Regions from separate parts of the Homo sapiens genome. Here all the other regions are linked to region 2. The links come from fine-mapping of genetic effects on gene expression. A gene starts in region 2. Each other region holds a variant in brackets. All regions are shown on one strand. Distances are between the middles of the regions.

Region 1 (8,174 bases), 81 kb after region 2:
CACCCACCACCATATTCGGCTGATTTTTATATTTTTAGTAGAGACCGAGTTTCATCATGTCGCCCAAGCTGGTCTTAAACTCCTGAACTCAAGCGATCCGTTCGCCTCAGCCTCACAAAGTACTGGGATTACAGGCATGAGCCACCCTGCCTGGCCAATGCTCGTATTTTAGAAATAATTCAATTAATGAGGAATAGGTAGAAACAACATACTAGAGGCAAAAAGTCAGGGCAAACAAGGACTGCTATGCCCAAAGGAACAGTTCAGAAAACTAAAGCATGCACACATGCCACTTAACATCCAACAACAAAGTTCCTACTAATTTGAAGTAACAGAAGATTTTTTTTTTTTTTTTTGAGACGGAGTCTTGCTCTGTGGCCCAGGCTGGAGTGCAGTGGCACGATCTCGGCTCACTGCAAGCTCCGTTCATGCCATTCTCCTGCCTCAGCCTCCCCAGTAGCTGGGACTACAGGTGCCCACCACCACACCCAGCTAATTTTTTGTTTTAGTAGAGACGGGGTTTCACCGTATTAGCCAGGATGGTCTCCATCTCCTGACCTCGTGATCCGCCAGCCTCGGCCTCCCAAAGTGCTGGGATTACAGGCATGAGCCACTGCACCCGGCCAACAAAAGATATCTAACAGAGGCTGTGTGAGGTGGCTCACACCTGTAACCCCAGCACTTTCGGACGCTGAGGCAGGTGGATCAACATCAGCCCAGTCAACATGACAAAACGCTGTCTCCACTAAAAACACAAAAATTAGCGCTGTGTGCTATGGCTCACGTCTGTAATCCCAACACTTTGGGAGGCCGAGGTGGGTGGATCACCTGAGGTCAGGAGTTCTAGACCAGCCTGGCCAACGTGATAAAACCTCATCTCTACTAAAAGTACATGATTAGCCGGGTGTGGTGGTGCACGACTGTAATCCCATCTACTCCGGAGGCTAACGAAGGAGAATCGCTTGAACCTGGGAGGCGGAGGTTGTAGCGAGCCAAGATCGTGCCACCACACTCCAGACTGGACAACAGAGGAAGACTCTGTCTGAAAAAGATAAATAAAATAAAAATAAAATAAAATAAGCCAGGCCTAGTGGAGCATGTCTGTAATCCCAGCTACTTGGGAGGCTAAGGCACAAGAATCACTTGACCCCAGGAGGCAGAGGTAGCAGTGAGCCTAGATCATGCCACTGCACTCCAGCACGGGAGACGGAGTGAGACTGTCTCAAAAAAAAAAAAAAGAAAAAGATCATCTAACAGGAAAAACGTTCACAACACGCAGCAAGGTTACAAAGGAGGATGCAGAATAGGATTCCAACCTAATTAAAAATAAGTAAGGCCGGGCCAGGTGCAGTGGCTCACGCCTGTAATCCCAGCACTCTGGGAGGCCGAGGCAGGTGGATCAGGAGGTCAGCAGATCGAGACCATCCTGGCTAACACGGTGAAACCCCGTCTCTACTAAAAACACAAAAAATTAGCTGGGTGCGGTGGCGGGTGCCTGTAGTCCCAGCTTCTCGGGAGGCTGAGGCAGGAGAATGGCGTGAACCCGGGAGGTGGAGCTTGCAGTGAGCCAAGATAGCGCCACTGCACTCCCGCGTGGGCGAAAGAGCGAGATTCCATCTCAAAAATAAATAAATAAATAAAAAATAAGTAAATCCTGGTGCGGTGGCTCACGCCTGTAATCCCAGCACTTTGGGAGGCCGACGTGGGTGGATCACCTGAGGTCAGGAGTTCTAGACCAGCCTGGCCAACATGGTGAATCCCTGTCTCTACTAAAAAAAAAAAAAAAAAAAAAAATTTGGCCAGGCGTTGGGGCAGGTGCCTCTACTAAAAGTACAAAATTAGCCGAGTGTGGTGGTGCACGCCTGTAATCCCAGCTACTCTGGAGGCCGAGGCAGGAGAATCACTTGAACCCGGGAAGCAGAGGCTGCAGTGAGCTGAGATTGAGCCACTGCACTCCAGCCTGGTGGACAAGAGCGAGACTTCGTCTCAAAAATAATAAATAAATAAATAAATACATAAATAAATAAAATAAAAATAAAATACATAAATAATTAAAAAACTAAGCTGGGCATGGTGGCTCACACCTGTAATCCCAACACCTTGGATGGCCTGGGAGGAGGGGATTGCTTGAGGCCAGGAGTTGAAGGCCAGCCTGGGCAACACAGTAAGACCCCATCTTTACAAAAAAAATTAGCTGGGCCTGGTGATACGCACCTACACTCCTAGCTACTCAGGAGCTTGAGGCCAGATGATCACTTAAGGCCAGGAGTTCAAGGTTATAGTGAGCTATGATCACACCACAGCACTCTAGCCTGGGCAACAGAGCGAGAGTCTGTCTCTAAATTAATTTAAAATAATCATTATAATTTAACAAACTAGACAAACAGCAATCCCAGTTATCCCACCTTAAGTCAGGACAGCATTACATCTTGCATGGACCAATGCAATGGCCTTCTAAACAGTTTCCCTGCTTCCCCTCTTGCTCCATTACCCACCATTTTTCACACAGCGGCCACGGATTTCTAAAATGTAAATCCATTATCAGCAAGAAGACTTCCCTTCTGAAACCACCATGCTGAAAACTCTTAAAGTCCAAACTCTTTCACATGGCCTACCAAGTGCTTCAGGGCCCTATCAGCAGATCTGCATCCAGCCTGACATACTCGCCTCTAATCACACTGAACTTCTTTCAGTAGCCAGAACATTCTAGGTCTTTCCTTTCCTGCCTCTGGGCCTTTGTACATGCCATTCCCTCTTCTAGGAATATACAAGCAATTCTCTATGTTTACACTAGTACACGAGCCTAAAGATGTGTATATAAGAAGGCTATCTACTACTAGGGTATTTTTCTCTAATGGCAAAAGATTAAAAACAAGCTGGGCGTGGTGGCTCATACCTGTAATCCCAGCACTTCAGGAAGCCTGGGCAGTTGGGAGGCCAGGGCAATTGGGAGGCCGAGGCAGGTGGATCACCTGAGGTCAGGAGTTTGAGACCAGCCTGGCCAACATGACGAAACCCTGTATCTACTAAAAATACAAAAATTAGCCGGGCATGGTGGCATGTGCCCATAATCCCAGCTACTCGGGAGGCTGAGACAAGAGAATCGCTTAAACCTGAGAAGCAAGGATTGCAGTGAGCCGAGATCACGGCACTGCACTCCAGCCTAGGTGACAGAGCAGCAAGACTCCGTCTCAAATAAAAAAAAAACAAAAAAAAACAAAGATTGAAAACAACTCAAACGTCTAGAACAACGTGTATAGTAAGCTACTATTTGTGCTTTATTTTTTATTTTTATTATTTATTTATTTATTTTGAGACGGAGTTTCACTCTTGTTGCCCAGGCTGGAGTGCAATGGCGATCTCGGCTCACTGCAACCTCCACCTCCCAGGTTCAAGCGATTCTCCTGCCTCAGCCTCCCGAGTAGCTGAGATTACAGGCGTGTGCCACCACACTCCGCTAATTTTTGTATTTTTAGTAGAGATGGGGTTTCACCATGTTGGTCAGGCTGGTCTTGAACTCCTGACCTCAGGTGATCCACGCACCTTGGCCTCCCAAAGTGCTGGGATTACAGGCGTGAGCCACCACGCCCGGCCTTTTATTTTTATTTATTTATTTTTGAGACGAAGTCTTGCTCTTGTCCCCCAGGCTGGAGTGCAATGGTGCAATCTCGGCTCACTGCAACCTCCACTTCCCGGGTTGAAGCGATTCTCCTGCCTCAGCCACCTGAGTAGCTGAGATTACAGGCGCCTGCCACCACGCCCAGCTAATTTTTGTATTTTTAGTAGAGATGGGGTTTCACCATGTTGGCCAGGCTGGTCTCGAATTCCTGACCTCAGGTGATCCGCCTGCCTCGGCCTCCCAAAATGCTGAGATTACAGGCGTGAGACACCATGCCCGGCCTATTTGTGCTTTTTTAAAAAGATACATAAACTTGGCCAGGCACATTGGCTCATGCTTGTAATCACAGCAATTTGGGAGGCCGAGGTGGGTGGAACACTTGAGGCCAGGAGTTCGAGACCAGCCTGGCCAACACGGTGAAATCCCATCTCTACTAAAACTACAAAAATTCGCTGGGCATGGCCGCACATGTGTGTAATCTCAGCTACTTGGGAGGCTGAGGCACAAGAATCACTTCAACTCAGGAGGTAGAGGTTGCAGTGAGCCAAGATCACGTGTCTCACTCCAGCCTGGGCAACAGAGTGAAAACCCTGTCTCAAAAAAAAAAAAAAAAAAAAAAAAAGATACATAAACTCATACATTTGAATATACGCAGAATTTTCTTTGGATGGATACATCAGAAATTGGTATTTATTGCCTCTGAGGAAGAAAAATGAGAGATCAGAGGCAAGACTGAGGATTACTTTTCATTATTAACATTTTGCACTGTTTGAAGTATTTCCCCCTCATGTTCTTACATTAAATGTGGTGGTTACAGAAAATTTCCATAGCACAATTATATTTTGTTTAAAAAGTTGTATTATATGTACATGCCTGTTAATAAAAGTGCAAAGTCAACACACCAGACTATTAATAGTCTTCAGCTCTGGGAAAACAAAGTTAAGGGATTCTTTAGGTTCTAATGTAATTCTACAATCATTAGACTCTTCCAAAGAATGAAACTAAACATTACTTGGGTAATATTTAAACAAAGTTTAAGACCAAATTTAAGTGAGGATCACTGCAAGAACTGCCTCTGCAACCTCAATCCCCTCTAACAGCTGGGCAGATGCAGGAGCTTCCTCCTGCCTTACTCTCCTCCTGGCTGCACTTCTATAACTGTTCCAGTGGCCCTCTCGATTCCACTCAAGAAGTCTAGACTGGCTGGGAGCGGTGGCTCACGCCTGTAATCCCAGCACTTTGGGAGGCCGAGGTGGACGGATCACAAGGTCAGGAGATGATGAGACCATCCTGGCTAACACAGTGAAATCCCGTCTCTACTAAAAAAAATACAAAAAAAAAAATTAGGCAGGCGTGGTGGCAGGCGCCTGTAGTCCCAGCTACTCAGGAGGCTGAGGCGGGGGAATG[A/G]CATGAACCCGGGAGGCGGAGCTTGCAGTGAGCCAATATCGCACCACTGCACTCCAGCCTGGGCAACAGAGCGAGACTCCATCTCAAAAAATAAAAAAAAAAAAAGAAGTCTAGACATTACTGCCAAGTAAACTAGGCAAAAACACCTTTTATCATTTCATTATCCTTTTTTTTTTTTTTTTTGAGACAGAGCCTCCCAGGTTCACACCATTCTCCCACCTCAACCTCCTCAAGTAGCTGGGACTACAGGCGCCCGCCACCATGCCTGGCTAATTTTTGTATTTTTAGTAGAAACGGGGTTTCACTGTGTTAGCCAGGATGGTGTCGATCTCCTGACCTCGTGATCCGCCCACCTCGGCCTCCCGAAGTGCTGGGATTACAGGTGTGAGCCACCACGCCCGGCCCATTTCATTACCTTTATCAGAAAGTTTCAGTGCTACTTCCTACTGTACTGCATTCCCTTTTCCTTTAAAAATTATGCAATACAGGCAACAGGAGAAAGCTTAAAGAAACCTACCTATAGGTTTTATACACACATTCTGGCTTATATCCAAATTCGCAGTCCCCTCCCCAATATATACATATACTTACTCTCACGAGATCATACCATACATATTGTTTGATAATCTGCTTTCTTTGTACTTTGTTTCAAATATCTTGCCATTTCAACATATTTTTTATACATAATGGCTACACAACATTCTATTATAAGGCCAGGCACGGTGGCTCACGCCTGTAATCCCAGCACTTTCGGAGGCAGAGGCAGGCGGATTACGAGGTCAGGAGATCCAGACCATCCTGGCTAACATGGTGAAACCCCATCTCTACTAAAAACACAAAAAATTAGCGGTTCTAGCTACTCAGGAGGCTGAGGCAAGAGAATGGTGTGAAGCCGGGAGGCGGAGTTTGCAGTGAGCAGAGATCGTGCCACTGCACTCCAGCCTAGGTGACAGAGGGAGACACCATCTCAAAAAAAAAAAAAAAAAAAAACATTCTATTATAGGGATGTATCATAATTTAACCAGTCACCTATTGTTAAATATTTTTATAGCCAGATTTTGGTAATTCTGCTTTAATCTAAGAAAAGAAAAAAAGTATTTGCATTAAAAAAAATTACACAAACTATACAAAACCAACAAAAAGTGACCCCCAAACCAAACTACCCTCACACTACTAGTTTTGACTGATGATTTCCACGTCTGTTTAGTCTTTTTTCCCTAGGCATTCATTCATCCAAATAATTACTTATTGAGCTTCTGCTATACGCCAGGTTTTAGTTTGGGATTTTCTTTACTTTTATTCCATAATAATTAACTTTTTGGTATTATGCTATTAAAAAACCTCTCTCATAAGCATTTTGCTGGTTAACAGCCTTCCGTTTTTTTTTTTTTTTTTTTTTTAAGACAGGGTCTCACTCTGTCACCCAGGCTAGAGTGCATGCAGCCTTAACCTCCTGGGCTCAGGTGATCCTCCCATCTCAGCCTCCCAAGTAGCTGAGACTACAGGTGTGCACCACCACACCTGGCTACATTTTTTTTTTTTTTTTTTTTTACAGACAAGGTCTCACTAAGTTGCCCAGGCTGACATTCATCTTTTTAAATGGGTTAGGGTTTTATATCCCTTGCAACATGCAACGAGACCTTGTTTTCTTACCCACTTCTCTACTGCTCAACAGATTTTCTGATAAATCTAACCCATTTTCCTATGGCACAATATTTCCGTTTAGTTCATTAACATTTGTATTATCTGGTGGTCATCGAAGTTCAGTTTAATGCAAAATATATACAATAACCAACTTGGCTGGGCGCGGTGGCTCACGCTTGTAATCCCAGCACTTTGGGAGGCCAAGGTGGGCGGATCACCTGAGGTCAGGAGTTTGAGACCAGCCCAGCCAATATGGTGAAACCCCGTCTCTACTAAAAATACAAAAATTAGCTAGACATGGTGGCGCACCTGTAGTCCTAGCTATTCAGGAGGCTGAGGCAGGAGAATCGGTTGAACCCGGGAAGCAGAGGCTGCAGTGAGCCGAGATTGCACCACTGCACTCCAGCCTGGCGACAGAGCGAGACTCCATCTCTCAAAAAAAAAGAGGAAAGGGAAGCCCAAGGAAGTCACCTCTAATAGAACTGCCCTGCCCAAGGCCATATAGCTATTAAGCTGCATGGCCAGGACTTGGAGTCCTAATGGGATTAAAATAAAATTCATCCTCCCAAAGTGCTGGGATTATAAGCATGAGCCACCACGCCCAGCCTCAGAAAACTTAATTCTTACTTACTTATTTGTTTATTGAGACAGGGTCTTACTCTGTCACCCAGGCTGAATGAAATGCAGTGGTGGGACCACGGCTCATTGCAACCTCAACCTTCTCAGCTCAGACGATCCTCCGGCCTCAGCCTCCTGAATAGCTAGGACTACAGGCATGCAACACAACGCGTGACTAAAGAAAATGTAATTCTTTTTTTTTCCTCTATCCACAAGGACATATGGAAAAAATGTAATTCTTAAATGCCACTTATGTTAAGAGCAATATGTTAATAACAATACTTAGTAATTGTAAAACACACAGTTAAGAATAGATGCTTTTGGCTGGGCGCAGTGGCTCACGCCTGTAATCCCAGCACTTTGGGAGGCCGAGGCAGGCAGATCAAGAGGTCAGGAGATCAAGACCATCCTGGCTGACAAGGTGAAACTCTGTCTCTGCTAAAAATACAAAAATTAGCTGGGTGTGGTGGTGGGCGCATGTAGTCTCAGCTACTTGGGAGGCCGAGGCAGGAGAATGGTGTGAACCTGGGATGCGGAGCTTGCAGTGAGCCAAGATTGCACCACTGCACTTCAGCCTGGGCAACAGAGCAAGACTCCATCTCAAAAAAAAAAAAAAAAAAAAAAAAAAGATGCTTTTGGCTGGGCGTGGTGGTTCATGCCTGTAATCCCAGCACTTTGGGAGGCCGAACTGGGTGGATCACCTGAGGTCAGGAGTTTGAGACCAGCCTGGCCAACATGGCAAAACCCCATCTCTACTAAAAATACCAAAATTAGCCAGGCGTGGGGGTGAACGCCTGTAATCCCAGCTACTCGGGAGACTGAGGCAGGAGAACTGCTTGAACCTGGGAGGGGGAAGTTGCAGTGAGCCGAGATCACGCCACTGCAC
Region 2 (8,143 bases):
CCCACCCACGCTTGCTGTGTCCTGCAGGAGCCAGGCCTGGGGGTGGACTTCATTCGTCACAATGCACGAGCTGCCAAGAGAGCCCCCCGGAGGCATTCCTGCTCACTGCAGGTCCTGGCACAAGTGCTAGAGCAGCAGCGGCAGGCCCAGGAGCACTACAATGCCACGCAGAAGGGCCATGTGCCACATTAGTAGGTCTCACTGCCCGACACTCAGGGTGAAGGACACCTGTGGAGGGTGGGAACCAACCTCTGCCCTCGGGTCATCAACTCTGAGCCTGTGTACCCACAGCTTGTTGGAGCGCAGGGACCTGTGGCGGCGGGAGGCCGAGGCCCGCAAGCAGAGCCAGCCGGACCCTGCCATGCCCCCAGGCCACACGCGCATGCCTGAGAACCAGCGGCTGGAAACACTGACCAAGCTGCTCCAGAGTGAGTACCTGGGCAGGGAGGCTGGAGGGGGGCCCCACTGGGGACCGGGCACCCCTGCCCAACACTCACTGTTCTCACTGTTCCCGGGCCCCCTGTAGGCCAGAGCCAGCTGCTGCGTGAGCTGGTACTGCTGCCTGCTGGGGCAGACTCACTGAGAGCCCAGAGCCACCGTGCTGAGCTGGACCGGAAGCTGGTGCAGGTAGAGGAGGCCATCAAGATCTTTTCTCGGCCCAAAGTCTTCGTGAAGATGGACGACTGAGCCCCTTTGGGGGACAGTGGCAAGGAGCTCCATGCTGAGGATCGCCACATGGCTGCAAAGGACAGGGTTGGACCCAATCCCAGAGCAGAGGTCTGAAGACAGGAGCAGGGGGGTGGCCAGTGTCCCTAGAGCACTCTTCCCAGTCACCAGTGGCTGCAGAAGGGCCACCCTAGCCTTTTAACTGCTTTGTCAAAATTAAACATTTTGTACACAGGATTTGTTTCCATAAGAGCTTTTCTTACCCTAAAAATGCCAAGCCTGGTGGCCCTCCTGCTGCTTGATTGCAGGAAGTTCTCCCCAATGTCACTCCTGCCTTAGTCCAGAGCAGAAGGCAAGCTGGTGAGACCAGGGAGGAGGCTGGAACTGGGACACACAAGGACCATGACTGTATTTGTAGAAAACCTTTAATGTTCCCCAGGCTGAGGGAGCCCTGTGAGCCAGCTAAAAACCCCCACTGTGAAGTCCCTGCCATGTCCCAGCAGTGTGGAGTGGCATGGGGCTTCATCCTGACTGTCAGAGGCTGAAGCCACTACCATCTCCTCGAATGCGACTCCCCCAGCCAGAACTGGCCTGCTCCTGGTCATCCAGGGAGGGCAGAGAGCTGCGGGTACCAGGATGTCGGCAGCCAGGGTGCAGGTCCCAGCACGGGGGCCCCTGAGACAGCCCATTGGAACTGGGAGGCTGGCGGTTCTCAATGACCAGGTCACTGCTGTCATCGTCACTATCAGGCTCAGCAGGCCCAGGCCCTGCAGAGGGAGGACCTGTCAAACGCCCAGATGCCCCTCGCACCACGTTATTGCGCTGGTTGGCGGGCTTGACAGTGACAATGAGGTTATGGCTGTTGGCAACCATCATGTCCGTCACTTGGTCCAAGGTCTTCCCGGCTACTTCAATGCCATTGACCTCGAGGATCTCATCACTGACCGCCAGCAGCCCTGTACTCTCAGCCAGACCCCCACGTACCAGGCGGGAGATGAAGATTCCTGGAACCCGCTCCAGGCCCTGGGGAGCCACACGCACGCTCATGCCATCTCGGATGTAGAAGCCCAGGGGGCGGTCTGAACCATGCTTGTGCAGCCGCACCCGTCGGTGGGTCTCAGGCAGTAGGTCCACGTCTATGACTGAGGAAACCTGGCGGAAATCTTGGGGCAGGCTGATTAGCAAGGGTGGCCGGGTGCGCAGGGGTGCCACTGGCCGCAGCAAGAGCCCTTTCTTGCGCCGCTGCAGAGAGTTGGAGGCAAAAGCCAGGCCGCTGGAGTCAGCTTCTGCTGCAGAAGAGGGGGGATGTTGAGATCAGAGACCTGCTCCCCGACTTGGGCTGTTTACAGGGGGCACTGTAGCTATTTCCTACCACTTAGAGGTCAAGCCAAGGGCAGGGACTGCAGAGGGTGACGCTTGGGTACCCTGGGCATGGACTAACCCTTGTAGACCTGCCCCACAGACACCTTACCCCACAGAGGCTGCCCACTGTACCCCTCCTCACCCCGCTTCTGCACCAGTAGGCGCAGTGGCGGGGGCCCGCTGGCCAGGGCCCGGTGCAGGCTGTCGTCGTTGGTGAGGGGCAGCAGGTCGCCATGAGCATCCGTATAGCCAAGTAGCACGTCCAGGCCCGGGATCTGGTGCACCGCCCGCAGCAACCGCGAGAACTCCTGGAAGCCGCTCACCGAAGCGCGAGGCAGCGCGAAGCGTCGGAACTCGGCGTCAAACTGGAAGTCGGGGTTGGGGGAGAGGAGGAGTCAGGACAGCCTGCGCCCCTTTCTCACCGCAGGCTGGCAGGAATGGGAAAGATGCGGCTGCCGCTTTTGCGGCAGCCTTAAGCCCAGACCTCAGCTCCAGTACCAGGGACGCTGTCCAAGGTCTTCTTACCGCCCTCCAGGTACTCAGGCCACAGAGAGCTGGAGACCAGCAGTGGAGGAAGGAAGACGGATGGGGGAAGGCGAGCAGAAAAGCAGAATGGGACTTGGAGGATAGAGGGAAGAGGTGGCGGGGACCAAGGAGCTGGGAAGGGGAGAAAGAGGGAATTGGGAGCGCCTAGGGCCGAGGCCGGAGGAGCCCTTACTTTGCTCTTCACCTCGACGATGCTATCGGGACTGCGCGCCGGAGTCCTCTGCGGCCGGGCCATGGCGGGGCCGGGCGGGCCGGGGACGGTGCCCCAGGCGGCCCGCCGAGGCGCAGGTGCACAGCCCGGCCGGCCCGCCCGCGCCGCCCCGCCCCTGGCGGTAGCACACGCCCCGCCTTCCCATCCGGAGCGTGACGTCAAGGGGGCAGCGACGCAGAGTGGAACGCGGAGTCCACGTTTCCTAGGAAACGGAGCCGTGGATGGAGAGGAGCCGTCCTCCGCTCTTGCGTCATCACGCTGAGGTCCGCGCGCCCCCGGAGTCTGGGGAGCAGGGCTCCGCCAATCCGAGGGGAGGGCGAAGGAAGTACCATTTATTTAGCGCTGTGTGTGTGCTCTTATTTCCACTGGCCTTACAAGACCGTGCACTGTGTAGATGAGGAAACTGAGTCATAATAAATATGTGCTGAACCGTTCGGGGGTCACACGGTGCTGAAATGGTTTCGAGTCAACTCGCTCGGACGGCACTCGGCCTCAGCCTCCGGCCCTGGAACCCTCTCCAGGGACGGGACCAGCCCTTGTTCTGTTCCCTACCGGTACCACAGGAATCTTGACGAACGGCCCAAATGCCTGGCCGCTGTCAGAGTGACGCCGCGATGAGAGTAAACGGGCCAGCATCCCGTGCACCAGCGGGGTGGACCAGCGGGAGTCTGCACACAGGCCCCCGAGCAGGACGCCCTCGTGCGCAGGCGCGGGGTGTACGTGGGCGGGGCCTCCTCCTCCGGCCCCGCCCAGCGAAGGAGCTTCCTCTTCCGAGGAAAGGCGGGGCCTGGGCGCCCGCGGGAAACCCGGGCCCGTTGCATCCGCTGGGTGTAGCCGTGGGGATGGCAGGTTCGGGGAGGCTGGTCCTACGGCCCTGGATTCGGGAGCTGATTCTGGGGTCAGAGACACCCTCCAGTCCACGAGCCGGGCAGCTGCTTGAGGTGAGCCCCCATTCAGGGCCCGGAGACCGAGGCGGAGGCCCGGGGTGGTGGGATTGACGCCGCTCGCCGCCGTCAGGTACTACAGGACGCCGAGGCCGCGGTCGCGGGCCCATCCCACGCCCCTGATACGTCCGACGTCGGGGCCACGCTGCTTGTGTCTGACGGGACCCACAGTGTCCGATGCCTGGTGACGCGGGAGGCCCTGGACACCTCGGACTGGTGAGAGGCCCCGCGCGGCTCTGGAGGTCGGAGTCCGGCAGGAGAGCGCGAGGTGGGCGGGCCTTGTGTTCAGGTGGGCCCGGCAGTGAGGATCCTGCTTGTTGCAGGGAGGAGAAGGAGTTCGGCTTCCGCGGGACAGAGGGCCGGCTGCTGCTGCTGCAGGACTGCGGGGTTCATGTCCAGGTCGCTGAGGGCGGCGCGGTGAGTGGTGAGACTGCCTTGGGCGGGTTACCGGGCATGACTCTTCGTGACGATTCTGAGACCCCCCCTTCCCCCCGAACTCCTCCAGCCCGCAGAGTTCTATCTCCAGGTGGACCGCTTCAGCCTGCTGCCCACGGAGCAGCCCCGGCTACGGGTGCCTGGTTGGTAAGTGATGCCTCCGCCCTCCAGCAGCTCTCCCCACCCCAGCCTGGCCGGCGCTGGCAGACGCCTATGGGGTAGGAGGGCTTGGGCCCCCATTAACTACCCTTCTCTTTTTCTTAGCAACCAAGACTTAGATGTTCAGAAAAAGCTCTATGACTGCCTTGAGTGAGTCTGGGGTTGGGCTCGGGGGCCACGTGTTGTTTGGTGAGGGGATGGTGTATCTAGGTAGACAGGCCTCAGCATGGTTCCTGAGTCCTGGCCACTCTCTTCCTGTAGGGAGCACCTTTCAGAGTCCACCTCGTCCAATGCAGGTACTGTAGAGCTTGACCAGTGATCCTAACACGCTGTGCAGTGATCTCTCCAGCCTTAACCTTATGCTTCCTCAATAAGCTGTCTTCCCCCTCACCCTCCTGGTCCTCCCCTTTAAGCCTTGACTCATCCCATGGTCCCCTGTCCCCAGGCCTATCACTGTCCCAGCTTCTGGATGAAATGCGGGAGGACCAGGAGCATCAGGGGGCACTCGTGTGCCTGGCTGAAAGCTGCCTGACACTGGAGGGCCCTTGCACAGCACCCCCTGTCACCCACTGGGCTGCCTCACGATGCAAGGCCACGGTCAGTCTGGGGATTTGCTTGGGAGATGTCAGGGTGAGGAGTTGGGCAAGGGTCATATCCCACAGGACATGAGAGTAAACGGGCCTGTCCTACAGAGTTCATGTCCCACAGGGAGAAGCTGTGTACACTGTCCCCAGCTCAATGCTGTGCATCTCTGAGAATGACCAGCTAATTCTGAGCTCTCTAGGCCCCTGTCAGAGGACACAGGGTAAGGGGGACTGGAGAGGTTGGGGGGATACCTGGGGCCCAGGTCCACAGTGCTGATAAGACTTCCTGAACCCCCCAGGCCCTGAGCTGCCCCCACCAGACCCGGCTCTGCAGGACCTATCTCTGACCCTCATAGCCTCTCCTCCTTCCTCACCCAGTTCCTCAGGTGAGGTGATGCACAGGTCACAGGCACTCACTGCCGCCTGTCAGTCAGGTTCCCGGGCTGCGCAGGATGCTGTGAAAGGTGCACGGTGGGTGGGGGATGAACACGGTCCCTGCAGTCCTGTCTGAGCTCGCAGGCCACTCAGCTGCCCTGAGCGGAGAGGGCTGTGCCTACAATAAGTCCCCTCCTCCTCAGGAACCCCGGCCTTACCCGGCCACATGTCATCCGAGGAAAGTGGTACCAGCATCAGCCTTCTGCCTGCCCTGTCCTTGGCTGCTCCAGACCCAGGGCAGAGAAGCAGCTCCCAGCCCTCACCAGCCATCTGCTCAGCCCCTGCCACCCTGACCCCCAGGTCCCCACACGCCAGCCGTACCCCCAGCTCCCCACTCCAGAGCTGCACTCCCAGTCTCTCACCCCGTAGCCATGTCCCCAGTCCACACCAGGCTCTTGTGACCAGGCCCCAGAAACCTAGCCTGGAGTTCAAGGAGTTTGTAGGGTTGCCCTGCAAGAATCGGCCGCCTTTTCCCAGGACCGGAGCTACCAGGGGAGCCCAGGAGCCCTGCTCTGTCTGGGTGAGCATAGCCCCTCTGCAGCTGGAGGGTAGAACAAGGAAGGCCTGAGGTAGAGCTGGGAGGGAGCATGGGTAGCCTTGGATGGGGTTGGGGTCCTTGTTAGCTCTTCCCCAGACACCATACCCCTTTCAGGAACCCCCAAAGAGGCATCGTGATGGTTCTGCCTTCCAGTATGAGTATGAGCCACCCTGCACGTCCCTCTGTGCTCGGGTCCAAGCTGTCAGGTGAGTGCCTGGGTCTGCCCCAACTCTTGGTCACTAGTCCCAGGCTCCATTGACCTGCAGCGGTGGTTTCTTTCCAGGCTTCCTCCCCAGCTCATGGCCTGGGCCTTGCACTTTCTGATGGATGCACAGCCAGGGTCTGAGCCAACTCCGATGTGAGACGTCACGCAGGACAGATACCGCTCCACACTCTGCTTCCTTTGAGTTTTTTAATAAAATAATCTCATGCGGCAGGAGAGGAGAGGATCAGGGATTGGGGCCGCCGCCTCTTTGGTCTGTGGCTGGGGAGGGTGGGCTCCGCTCAGGGCTGGAGGGCTCTGTGGGCTGTGGGGGCAGAGGCTCGGTTCCAAGGCCAGATCCTGTGAGGGGAGGGAGGGAGAGAGAGGAAGGGTCAGGGCTGGGCTAAGCAGTCCTGCCACCCTCCCAGCTGGCCTGGACCCCCTCTTACCTAGGCTTGGGGATGGAGGTGCCTCGAGTTTTGGCCTGCGTTTGAGGACGGGGGAGCGCTGCAGCCTCAGGGGCCGTTCTAAGGGACACAGAAAGGCTTGGGGTGGGTTGCTAAGGCTTGGGGTCTGTCCATCCCCTGCCCCTCTCTTCCACCTCCAGTGCACATAAGCATGCACTCACACACACTGCTGCCTTCAGAGCATCCCCCGTCCCTGCGTCCTCACCCCTGGCAGAGGCTGCTCTTCGGGAAGTGGAGCCAGTGCTAGTTGGAAGGGCTTGCTGTCAAACCCTTGCACCTGGTCTTCTGGCTCCCTGATTTCTTGAGACCTCACACACTGGTGGCTCCCTCCAAGGACCAAAGCTATGAAGGGAGCCCCAGAAGCCCACCCTCCCACATCTCCTGCATTCAAGCACACGTGGAGGTGTCTCCCCTCACCAGCAGGGGCCTGGAGCTGGTCCTCATGCACAGACACTGCTCGCCGCCCTGCCGAGAGAGGCCTCGGCCTCAGCTGGCCATCTGAGGGAGGCCAGGGAATCAGGGGTATTCCAACAGCTGCCCCCACTCCAGCCCTTGCCTCCCACCCTCAGGGTCCTTAGAGGAGCTGAGTTCCCAGCAGGAACTCCTCCAGCCCCGAGGCCAGGATTGGGGTGGGGAATCAGGTGCCTGCCTACCTTCATTTCTGGGGCCCAAGCAAGGGTCCTCTGGGAGGCCCAGGCTGTCTGGGGAGGGGCTGGTTCTGCAGGGACTTGGGCTTTGACCAGGGGAGGGAGGGCCTGGACCATCCTGTTGGCCCCAACCACGGCTCCTGAGCTCCGCATTCAACTGCTGCCCCAGTGTCTTCCAGGTGGCAGACTCAGGCCCCTGGCTCCCTGGGCCAGGTCTGCAGGAAGGGTCTGTAGGGAGAAAGGTGTCAGCCAAGACCTGGTCAGGCATTGGCGATAGGTCTGAACAACAGTCTGACCCAACTCCTGCCTGTCCCTGCTCCCACTACCAACACACACAGTGGCCCTCACTCACCAGCAGACACAGAGTGGGTGCGGGACTTGATCGAGATGGGAGGGGCCTCCGTGGAACTGTCCATAATGTCACCTGCAAGGCGGAGCTGGGGACTCAGGTACCAGACCTTGGAGGTGAGGGGAAGAAAAACCTGGCCTCTCCCCTTCCTCCCCAAGGAGAGCAAGTGCCTTGGGGGCTGTCTATAAGGACACCTCCTGGCAAATGTACTGCCACACCCCAGGGTCCCACTTACCATCTGAGCCAGCTTTCTTGATCTCGCCATCTTTGCTCTGCAGGAAACAGGGCAATCAGATTCCAGCCCTGCCCGCTCCCCACACCCTAGCCTTTTGTTCGTTCTTGTTCTTATAATCCTGCCACTGAATGCCCACCATGGGCTGGACAAGAACATGGCAAACCCAGTACAGCCCTCTTAGAACTCTTTGCACACTTGAATATTTCTAAATTCAGGCCGACTTCATGTTTTTTGTTTGTTTTTGTTTTTTGTTTTTTAAGATATTGAATGGATGGTATGGAGGGCTGGGGTTCTTTGGGACTCTAATGAGAGAGACATTAGCAGGGTGGCCCACAGAGGAGAGTCAGGGAAGAACCATGGGCA
Region 3 (8,174 bases), 140 kb before region 2:
TTTTGACAATATCTTTTGGAGAAGAACACACTAAGCTAGTCTAATAAGGAAAGTTTCATGTCAAGATTTCACAGAATATTTATATATACCTACTATGTTCCAGGCCCTATACTAGGTATAGGGAGAACAGATGTAAAGCCAGCACAGATCAGCTTTGTCCTCAGGAAGCCTGTGGCCCATTCAGTAGAGAGTGGACTGAAAGTCTTTCTGCAAGAGGAGGCAGAGCCTGGGAACAGTTGGGAGGAATGAGTAGGAGTTCCCCAGTAGGCGAGACCTGTTAGACCTATGAGTCTGATGGGTAACTAGCTTGACTTCTGGGTGCTAGGCTTTCTGGGCACTCCTCAAGTATAAGAGAGCTCTGTGGAGTAGGAGGGGCTGTGTTTGAGCTAAGAGCTTGGCACAGACTGATGGGCTTCAACTGCATTTTGCCGAGTCACCAGAGCTGTGAACTCGGGGAGCGGGTCTGGTGGGGTGAGGAGACATCAGAGCACTGCCAGTGGTGCCAGGAGATAAGGGGCATCCAGGTCTGTCTTTCTAGGAAGCGAAGGAGGGCCTGAAGCTGAGGGTCCCTGGGGAGGAGCAATGTCTGCAGGCAGAGTTCATGGACCTGTGGGTGTCCCTGGCTCTTAGTGATGACACATGGAGGGTGTGGCTGGCTAGGCTGACAGATGCTCCAGTGTGACCCTCAAAATAGACTGTAACATCATCCCAGCGGCGGAGGCCTCCTGACATGTGATGGTTGCTTTACCCAAGAGTAGTAGGCCTGGGCTAGAGCACTGGAAGGCATGGAGAGGGGTGGGGGCATTTTCCTCTGTAGCCAGTGTCTGGGCCCAGGCCCAGAGCAGGGGTCTCTGACCACAGCCAGCCTTCCCTTGCTCCTGCAGCTGACTTCCTTTGGCCAGGCAGCAGTGCACTCATTCATTCATTCCAGACACCAGGGCGCAGTACCCATTGTTTTTTTTTTTTGGTTGTTGTTGTTGTTGTTGTTTTTGAAACAGAGTCTCGCTCTGTTGCCAGGCTGGAGTGCAGTGGCACAATCTTGGCTCACTGCAAACCTCCGCCTCCTGGGTTCAAGTGATTCCCCTGCCTCACCCTCCCGAGTAGCTGGGACTACAGGCGTGCACCACCATGCCCAGCTAGTTTTTGTATTTTTAGTAGAGACGGTGTTTCACCATGTTGGCCAGGATGTTCTAGATCTCTTGACCTCATGATCTGCCCTCCTCAGCCTCCCAAAGTGCTAGGATTACAGGTGTGAGCCATCACATCCATTGTTTTGTCCCAGCCTGGGCCCCAGGAGCACAGGCATGAGGCCCCACCGGTGGTGTCGAAGGGTCAGGCCACCGTATGTGTCATATCCAGGGGTGGCCTGGAGGATGGACTGTACCTCAGAGTTTGAGGAAAACATCATAGAATCATATAAGAGGTGATGTGGGCTCTGGAAAGAGGAGTTAGAGTGTTCTAGGTGAACAAAGTGAGAAGCAGATGCTTCAGGCAGAAGAAACAGTGCATAAAAAGACATGGAGCTGGCCGGGCGCAGTGGCTCACACCTGTATTCCCGGCACTTTGGGAGGCCAAGGCGGGCGGATCACGAGGTAAGGAGATCGAGACCATCGTGGCTAACATGGTGAAACCCCGTCTCTACTAAAAATACAAAAAATTAGCCAGGCATGGTGGCGGGCGCCTGTAGTCCCAGCTACTCGGGAGGCTGAGGCAGGAGAATGGCGTGAACCCGGGAGGCCGAGCTTGCAGTGAGCCGAGATCGCGCCACTGCACTCCAGCCTGGGCAACAGAGCGAGACTCTGTCTCAAAAAAAAAAAAAAAAAAAAGAGATGTGGAGCGCAGAACATGAGGTCGGTAGGGCCAGACTGAAAATACCTTGTGTGTGGCCTGGCTCATGCCTGTAATCCCAGTACTTTAGGAGACTGAGGCGGGCAGGTCACTTGAGTTCAGGAGTTCGAGAACAGCCTGGCCAACATGGCGAAACCCCATCTCTCCTAAAAATACAAAAATTAGCCAGGCGCTAATAATAGTGGTGGTGCATGCCTGTAATCCCAGCTACTTGGGAGGCTGAGGCAGGAGAATCACTCGAACCTGGGAGGTGAAGGTTGCAGTGAGCCGAGATCACGCCACTGCTCTCCAGCCTGGGTGACAGAGTGAGACTCTGTCTTAAAAAAATAAAAAAGAAAATACCTTGTATGCTGTGGCCAGGGAGCGTGGGCTGTATCTTGAGGGCAGTAGCAGTGTGGGGGGCTGTGGATCTACCCATGCTTTTGAGAGTGAAGAAAAGAAGAGACTCTGCCAGTCTGGTTCAGCCAGGCTTCTCTGGCCAAGAGCCCTTGTCCAGGGTGGGCCAGTGACTTTAGGTCTTTGGCTCTAGCATGGTTTTCTCATAGCGGTTGTCTTTTTTTCTCTTGGCTGTTCCTTTGGTATGAAGAGATGAAGGGATGGGGTGTGAAAGACTGGTAGCCAGGAGGCTTCTCAGAGGTGAGAGGACTCTGCTTGTGCTGGAGTTCTGGTATTTTGGTTTTGCCAGCTCCCATCTGAAAGACAGTAATGCCCCATGTTTTATACCCAAGCATCTCCTCTGGTGAGCCAGAATCAGCCAAAGTGATTTTCCATGGAGACCTAGAGAGCCACTGTTAATTAAGATATCTTGATTAAGATCTCACCTGCCACATTCCTGGTGTGGAGGACCATCTAAGCTTAGGCCCTTCCAGCTGAGAGACAGCTGTGGCTGGCTTCTCACCCTGGATCCCCTCACCAAGTTCCAGTCTACATGCATTGTACAGTGCTGTTGAGAACTTTGGTGCTCATATGTCATCTGGGGAAGGCGTTGTCCTGCCCGCCCTGATAAGAAGGTGCTGTCCTTGCCCAAGGTAGGTACAGGCCGTGGTTGTGCCCCATTTTCCCTTACTGCCCCCCGGAGTTGATGGTCTTACAGGCAGATGCTGAGCTTTGGGCTGCACTTCTACTCAGGTAACACATTGTGCTATTTGTGGAGACATGGAATGTTTGGGTTCTGGAACACAGGGTAGGATGTTTGGGTTCTGGAACACGGGGTAAGAGAACTGGAGTCTAGATGGTGGCCACTGTTCTTTGCTTTTTTTTTTTTTTTTTTTTTTGAGAGAGGGTCTCTCTCTGTCACTCAGGCTGGAGTGCAGTGGCACAATCATGGCTCACTGCAGCCTCGACCTCCTGAGTTCAAGCAATCTTCCTACCTGAGACTCTTGAGTAGCTGGGACTACAGGTGCATGCCATCATGCCTGGCTAATTTTTATTTTATTTATTTAATTTATTTTTTGAGACAG[AGT/T]GTTGCTCTGTCACCCAGGTTGGAGTCCAGTGGAGTGATCTCGGCTCACTGCAACCTCCGCCTCCCAGGGTTCAAGTGATTCTCATGCCTCAGCCTCCTGAGTAGCTGGGATTACAGGCGTGTGCCATGACACCTGGCTAATTTTGGTATTTTTAGTAGAGACGAGGTTTTGCCATGTTGGCCAGGCTGGTTTTGAACTCCTGACCTCAAATGATCTGCCCACCTCAGCCTCCCAAAGTGCTGGGACTACGGGTGTGAGCCACCATCCCCAGCCCTGGCTAATTTTTAAATTTTTTGTAGAGACAGGGTCTTGCTATATTTCCTAGGCTGGTCTGGAACTCCTACGCTCAATCAATCCTCCTGCCTCAGCCTCCCAAAGTGCTGGGATTACAGGCATGAGCCACCACACCTGGCCTGTGGCCACTTTTCTGGTAGGGCCTCCCTCCTCACTGTATGTTGCTACCCAGGCTCCAACTGTGAGCTGAGAGTGGGGAGCGTCGTTGCCTTCTTTATAGCTGGGGCCTTCTTGGTCAAGGATTAGCTTTTAGAGAAATTCCTAGAATTCACTTCACCTCCTGCCTTTCTGCCTTGATGGTGTTTTTGTTCTCTGGAACTTTTGGTCTTTTCCCTGTATGGGTCATGGTGTAAGGGAGATTCCTTGTTAGAAGAGAAGCAGAAGCTCATCAGGCCAGAGCACAGGAGGATGAACCTAGCAGCCCCATGTGGCAGGCACTGTGTGCCATTCCTATTATGGGACCATTGGGAAGGAATAAAGGGCTCCAGAGTGGGTCTTGTGTGGTCGGGTCAAGTTGGAAAGAAGGGACTCATCAGTGGAAGAGGGATGGATAATTATGTCTAAATGCAAAGATGTTCCTCTGCCTCTCCATTCTGTTCAAAATCCATATAAAATGTCTTTGTAATTCTAGGATCGTTGGTGTTGTGACTTGGTGGTGGAACAGAGCCTAGCCCTTCTGTCATGAAGGGGCCAGAACAAGATGCTCTGTACTATATAGGGAAGTTGGGAGGGGACTGGGGAAGCCCTTGGCACCCCTCTTATGCCATTTCTTGTTACTTAACTCTTGGAATTAGAGATGCTTGGGGTTTCAGGGGAGTTTAGTTTAGGTCAGGGGTGGCAAGTGTGAAGGCCCCAATACCCCACAATACCCTCAGCTTCTATGACCAACATTACTGATTGACAGTAGCACTTGTTCTTGTCCAGACAGAGCCCAGAATTTTTCTCAATGCACAGCACATCAGGCAGCTATAATTTACTGGTCAGAGTTTCATCATGAGATGAAATCTACTAGCCCTCAGGGTGGAGGTGGTTGGAAGATAAGTGGATAGAGGCCCAGATGGTTGAGGGCTCAGCTTATTTCTTCTAAAGGAGAGTCCCAAGGCAGAGCTGAACCAAGAGGAAAGAAACAGAGGGGTTGGATTGCTGAGTAGAACTGATTCTAACCCAGTTTATAAAGCCATGTATCTGAAATTGGCATGGACTTTTTAAAAAAATGGAATGCCCTGTTTTTATAACAACTTGCACCAGTAGTTTGTCAGTAGTTATATTTACTTTTATAAAAATCAAAATAGGCTGTGTGCTGTGGCTCACACCTGTAATCCCAGCGCTTTGGGAGGCCGAGGCAGGCGGATCACAAGGTCAGGAGTTTGAAACCAGCCTGGCCGACATGGCGAAACCCTGTCTCTACTAAAAGTAAAAAATATTAGCTGGGCATGGTGGCAGGCGCCTGTAATCCCAGCTACTCAGGAGGCTGAGTCAGGAGAATCACTTGAACGCGGGAGGTGGAGGTTGCAGTGAGCTGAGACTGTGCCACTGCACTCCAGCCTGGGCAACAGAGTAAGGCTCTGTCTCCAAAAAAAAAAAAAAAAAATCAAAATATTTTTATTTTACGTATAGAAAACATTTGTTTGTTTGTTTGTTTGTTTATTTTTGAGACGGAGTCTCACTCTGTCGCCCAGGCTGGAGTGCAGTGGTGCGATCTCAGCTCACTGCAAGCTCCACTTTCCGGGTTCACGCCACTCTCCTGCCTCAGCCTCCTGAGTAGCTGGGACTACAGGTGCCCGCCACCGCACCTGGCTAATTTTTTGTATTTTTAGTAGAGATGGGGTTTCACCGTGGTCTCGATCTCCTGACCTCGTGATCCACCCGCCTCGGCCTCCCAAAGTGCTGGGATTACAGGTGTGAGCCACCGCGCCCGGCCGAAAACCTTTATTTTTAAAAAATTATTTTATTTGTTTGTTTATTTTGAGACGGAGTTTCACTCTTGTTGCCCAGGCTGGAGTACAATGGCACGATCTTGGCTCACCATAACTTCCGCCTCCCGGGTTCAAGCGATTCTCCTGCCTCAGCCTCCTGAGTAGCTGGGATTACAGGCGTGCACCACCATGCCTGGCTAATTTTGTATTTTTAGTAAAGACAGGGTTTCTCCATGTTGGTCAGGCTGGTCTTGAACTCCCGACCTTAGGTCATCCTCCTACCTCAGCCTCCCAAAGTGCTGGGATTATAGGTGTGGACCACCGCACCCAGCCTATTTATTTTTTTGAGGCGGGGTCTCACTCTGTTGCCCAGGCTGGAGTGCAGTATTGCAATCATGGCTCTGCAACCTCCCCTCCTGCTCAAGAGATTCTCCCACCTCAGCCTCCTGAGTAGCTGGGACTACAGGCACATGCCATCATGCTCAGCTAATTTTTTTTTTTTTAAGTAGAAATGGAATTTCACCACTTGCCCAGGGTGATCTTCCTGGGCTTAAGTGATCTGCCTGTCTTGGCCTCCCGGAGTACTGGGATTACAGGTGTGAGCCACTGTACTTGGCCTTTTTTTGTTGCTGTTTTTTTTTTTTGTTTTTTTTTTTTTTTAATTTGAGGCAGGGTCTCACTCTTGTCACCTAGGCTGGAGTGCAGTGGCAAGATAGTGGCCTGAAATTTTTTTTTTTAACTGTTAAAGAATATGTAGGATTTTTTTTAGGCTGGGCCCAGTGGCTCAAGCCTGTAATCCCAGCACTTTGGGAGGCTGAGGCAGGTGGATCATGAGGTCAGGAGATCAAGACCATCCTGGCTAACACGGTGAAACCCTGTCTCTACTAAAAATACAAAAAAATTAGCTGGCCATGGTGGCACACACCTGTAGTCTCAGCTCTTCGGGAGGCTGAGGCAGGAGAATTGGTTGAACCTGGGAGGCGGAGGTTATAGTGAGCCGAGATCGTGCCACTGCACTCCAGCCTGGGAGACAGAGTGAGACTCCATCTCAAAAAAAAAAAAAAAAAGAATATGTTGGATTTTTTTAATACCTGATAAAGTCTACGTTTAAAAAATACACAGCAGGCCGGGTGTGGTGGCTCGTTTTTTATTTTGAGACGGAGTCTCGCTGTGTCACCCAGGCTGGAGTGCAGCAGCATGACCTCGGCTCACTCCAACCTCCGCCCCCTGAGTTCAAGCAATTCTCCCGCCTCAGCCTCCTGAGAGCTGAGGTTACAGGCATGCACCACCATGCCTGGCTAATTTTTGTATTTCTAGTAGAGATGGGGTTTCGCCATGTTGGCCAGGCTGGTCTCAAACTGCTGATCTCAGGTGATCTGCCCGCCTCGGCCCCTCAAAGTGCTGGGATTACAGGCTTGAGCCACCACCCCGACCAGTCCCAGCACTTTGGAAGGCCAAGACGGAAGGATTGCTTGAGCCTAGGGGTTCAAGACCAGCCTGGACAACATAGTGAGACCCCCACCTCTACGAAACATTTTTAAAAATGAGCGGGGTGTGATAGAATACTTCTGTAGACCTAGCTACTTGGGAGGCTGAGGCAGGAGGATTGCTTGAAACCAGGAGTTTGAGGCTACAGTGAGCTATGATTGAGCTACTGCATTCCAGTGTGGATGAGAGAGTGAGACTCGTCTCAAAAATAAATAAATAAATAAATAAAATAAAAAATAAAAATAAATAGCAGAGGGATAGAGAGATGCAGGTTTAAACAAATGCAGGCTTATGGCCATTATGTGCATAGTACTAGTAGAAGCAAATGCAGAAAACAGAAACCAGAAATTTCCAGTAGAAAGGGGTTTAATATATGGACTTTGATGCTTATAAAATTATCAAGACTTAGAATTTTCATGTAGTGGTGGACTAGGCTACTTAAATAATGTCTCCGATTGAAAATAAGATGGCAGATAAAATATTACAAGCGAGGCTGGGCACGGTGGCTCACGCCTGTAATCCCAGCACTTTGGGAGGCTGAGGTGGGCGGATCACCTGAGGTTAGGAGTTTGAGACCAGCGTGACCAACATGGTGAAACCCTGTCTCTACTAAAAATACAAACATTAGCCAGGCATGGTGGCGTATACCTGTAATCCTAGCTACTCGGGAGGCTGAGGCAGGAGAATTGCTTGAACCTGGGAAGCGGAGGTTGCAATGAGCCGTGGTCGTGCCATTGTGCTCCAGCCAGTCAAACAAGTGAAACTCCATCTAAAAAAAAAAAAAAAAAAAAAAATTACAAGCCAGCCAACTCAAGGCCAGTGTCTGGATGAACACCTGTAACTAGAGTTAAGGGTAGTGTCTGTGTACCAAAGGACATTTGTGGTGTTCACACACTGCTATGCTTGTGTGCTTCAGCTCCGTAATTACACAGGGCCATAGAGGTGGAGGTTAGACCCCTGTGGGGTCTAATGGGAACTCTCTCAAATTAAGCTGGGGCATTAGTGGCTACACCCTCCGGTTACGGGCAGTGCCTTTGGGTTTTTGAATGTGGCAGGCTCTGGAAAGTCAAGGTTTGGTACTTGAGACTCTGTTAGTACATTAGAGAAGGAGCTCAGAACCAAGGATGTGTAACCTGCCTAGGGCCACCAATAGGGGCTGTTCTGC

The links. PIP is the estimated chance that this variant, and not a neighbour inherited with it, causes the effect. A credible set is the group of variants that fine-mapping cannot tell apart.
Region 1: its variant is the best candidate, but not a certain one, in a credible set for the expression of ACD in whole blood (TOPMed, PIP 0.52).
Region 3: its variant is the best candidate, but not a certain one, in a credible set for the expression of ACD in whole blood (TOPMed, PIP 0.59).

Annotation. Positions count from the first base shown.
Region 1 is chr16:67,574,393-67,582,566 of GRCh38, reverse strand. All of the region lies in intron 2 of CTCF (CCCTC-binding factor), which reads right to left. Among named protein-coding and RNA genes, the nearest start is that of CTCF, 16 kb to the right of the region's middle. The variant A/G (reference allele first, on the strand shown) is at 5,027.
Region 2 is chr16:67,655,705-67,663,847 of GRCh38, reverse strand. It overlaps ACD (ACD shelterin complex subunit and telomerase recruitment factor), which reads left to right and starts at 3,588. Exons shown (of 12, transcript NM_001082486.2): 1 at 3,588-3,726; 2 at 3,803-3,945; 3 at 4,053-4,146; 4 at 4,235-4,311; 5 at 4,429-4,473; 6 at 4,585-4,619; 7 at 4,769-4,920; 8 at 5,032-5,128; 9 at 5,207-5,293; 10 at 5,486-5,862; 11 at 5,995-6,086; 12 at 6,164-6,336. The coding sequence starts at 3,628. The coding sequence ends at 6,242. CARMIL2 (capping protein regulator and myosin 1 linker 2) reads right to left here. Exons shown (of 38, transcript NM_001013838.3): 33 at 7,781-7,817; 34 at 7,549-7,620; 35 at 7,203-7,424; 36 at 6,967-7,047; 37 at 6,532-6,609; 38 at 6,279-6,442. The coding sequence ends at 6,330. It overlaps PARD6A (par-6 family cell polarity regulator alpha), which reads right to left and starts at 2,888. Exons shown (of 3, transcript NM_001037281.2): 1 at 2,747-2,888; 2 at 2,171-2,393; 3 at 1,074-1,952. The coding sequence starts at 2,809. The coding sequence ends at 1,201. It overlaps ENKD1 (enkurin domain containing 1), which reads left to right. Exons shown (of 7, transcript NM_032140.3): 5 at 28-191; 6 at 292-428; 7 at 527-903. The coding sequence ends at 687. RefSeq lists silencers at 2,622-3,101, 3,412-3,521 and an enhancer at 3,675-4,258.
Region 3 is chr16:67,792,938-67,801,111 of GRCh38, reverse strand. The region is part of intron 2 of RANBP10 (RAN binding protein 10); the gene reads left to right. Among named protein-coding and RNA genes, the nearest start is that of RANBP10, 9.5 kb to the left of the region's middle. The variant AGT/T (reference allele first, on the strand shown) is at 3,309.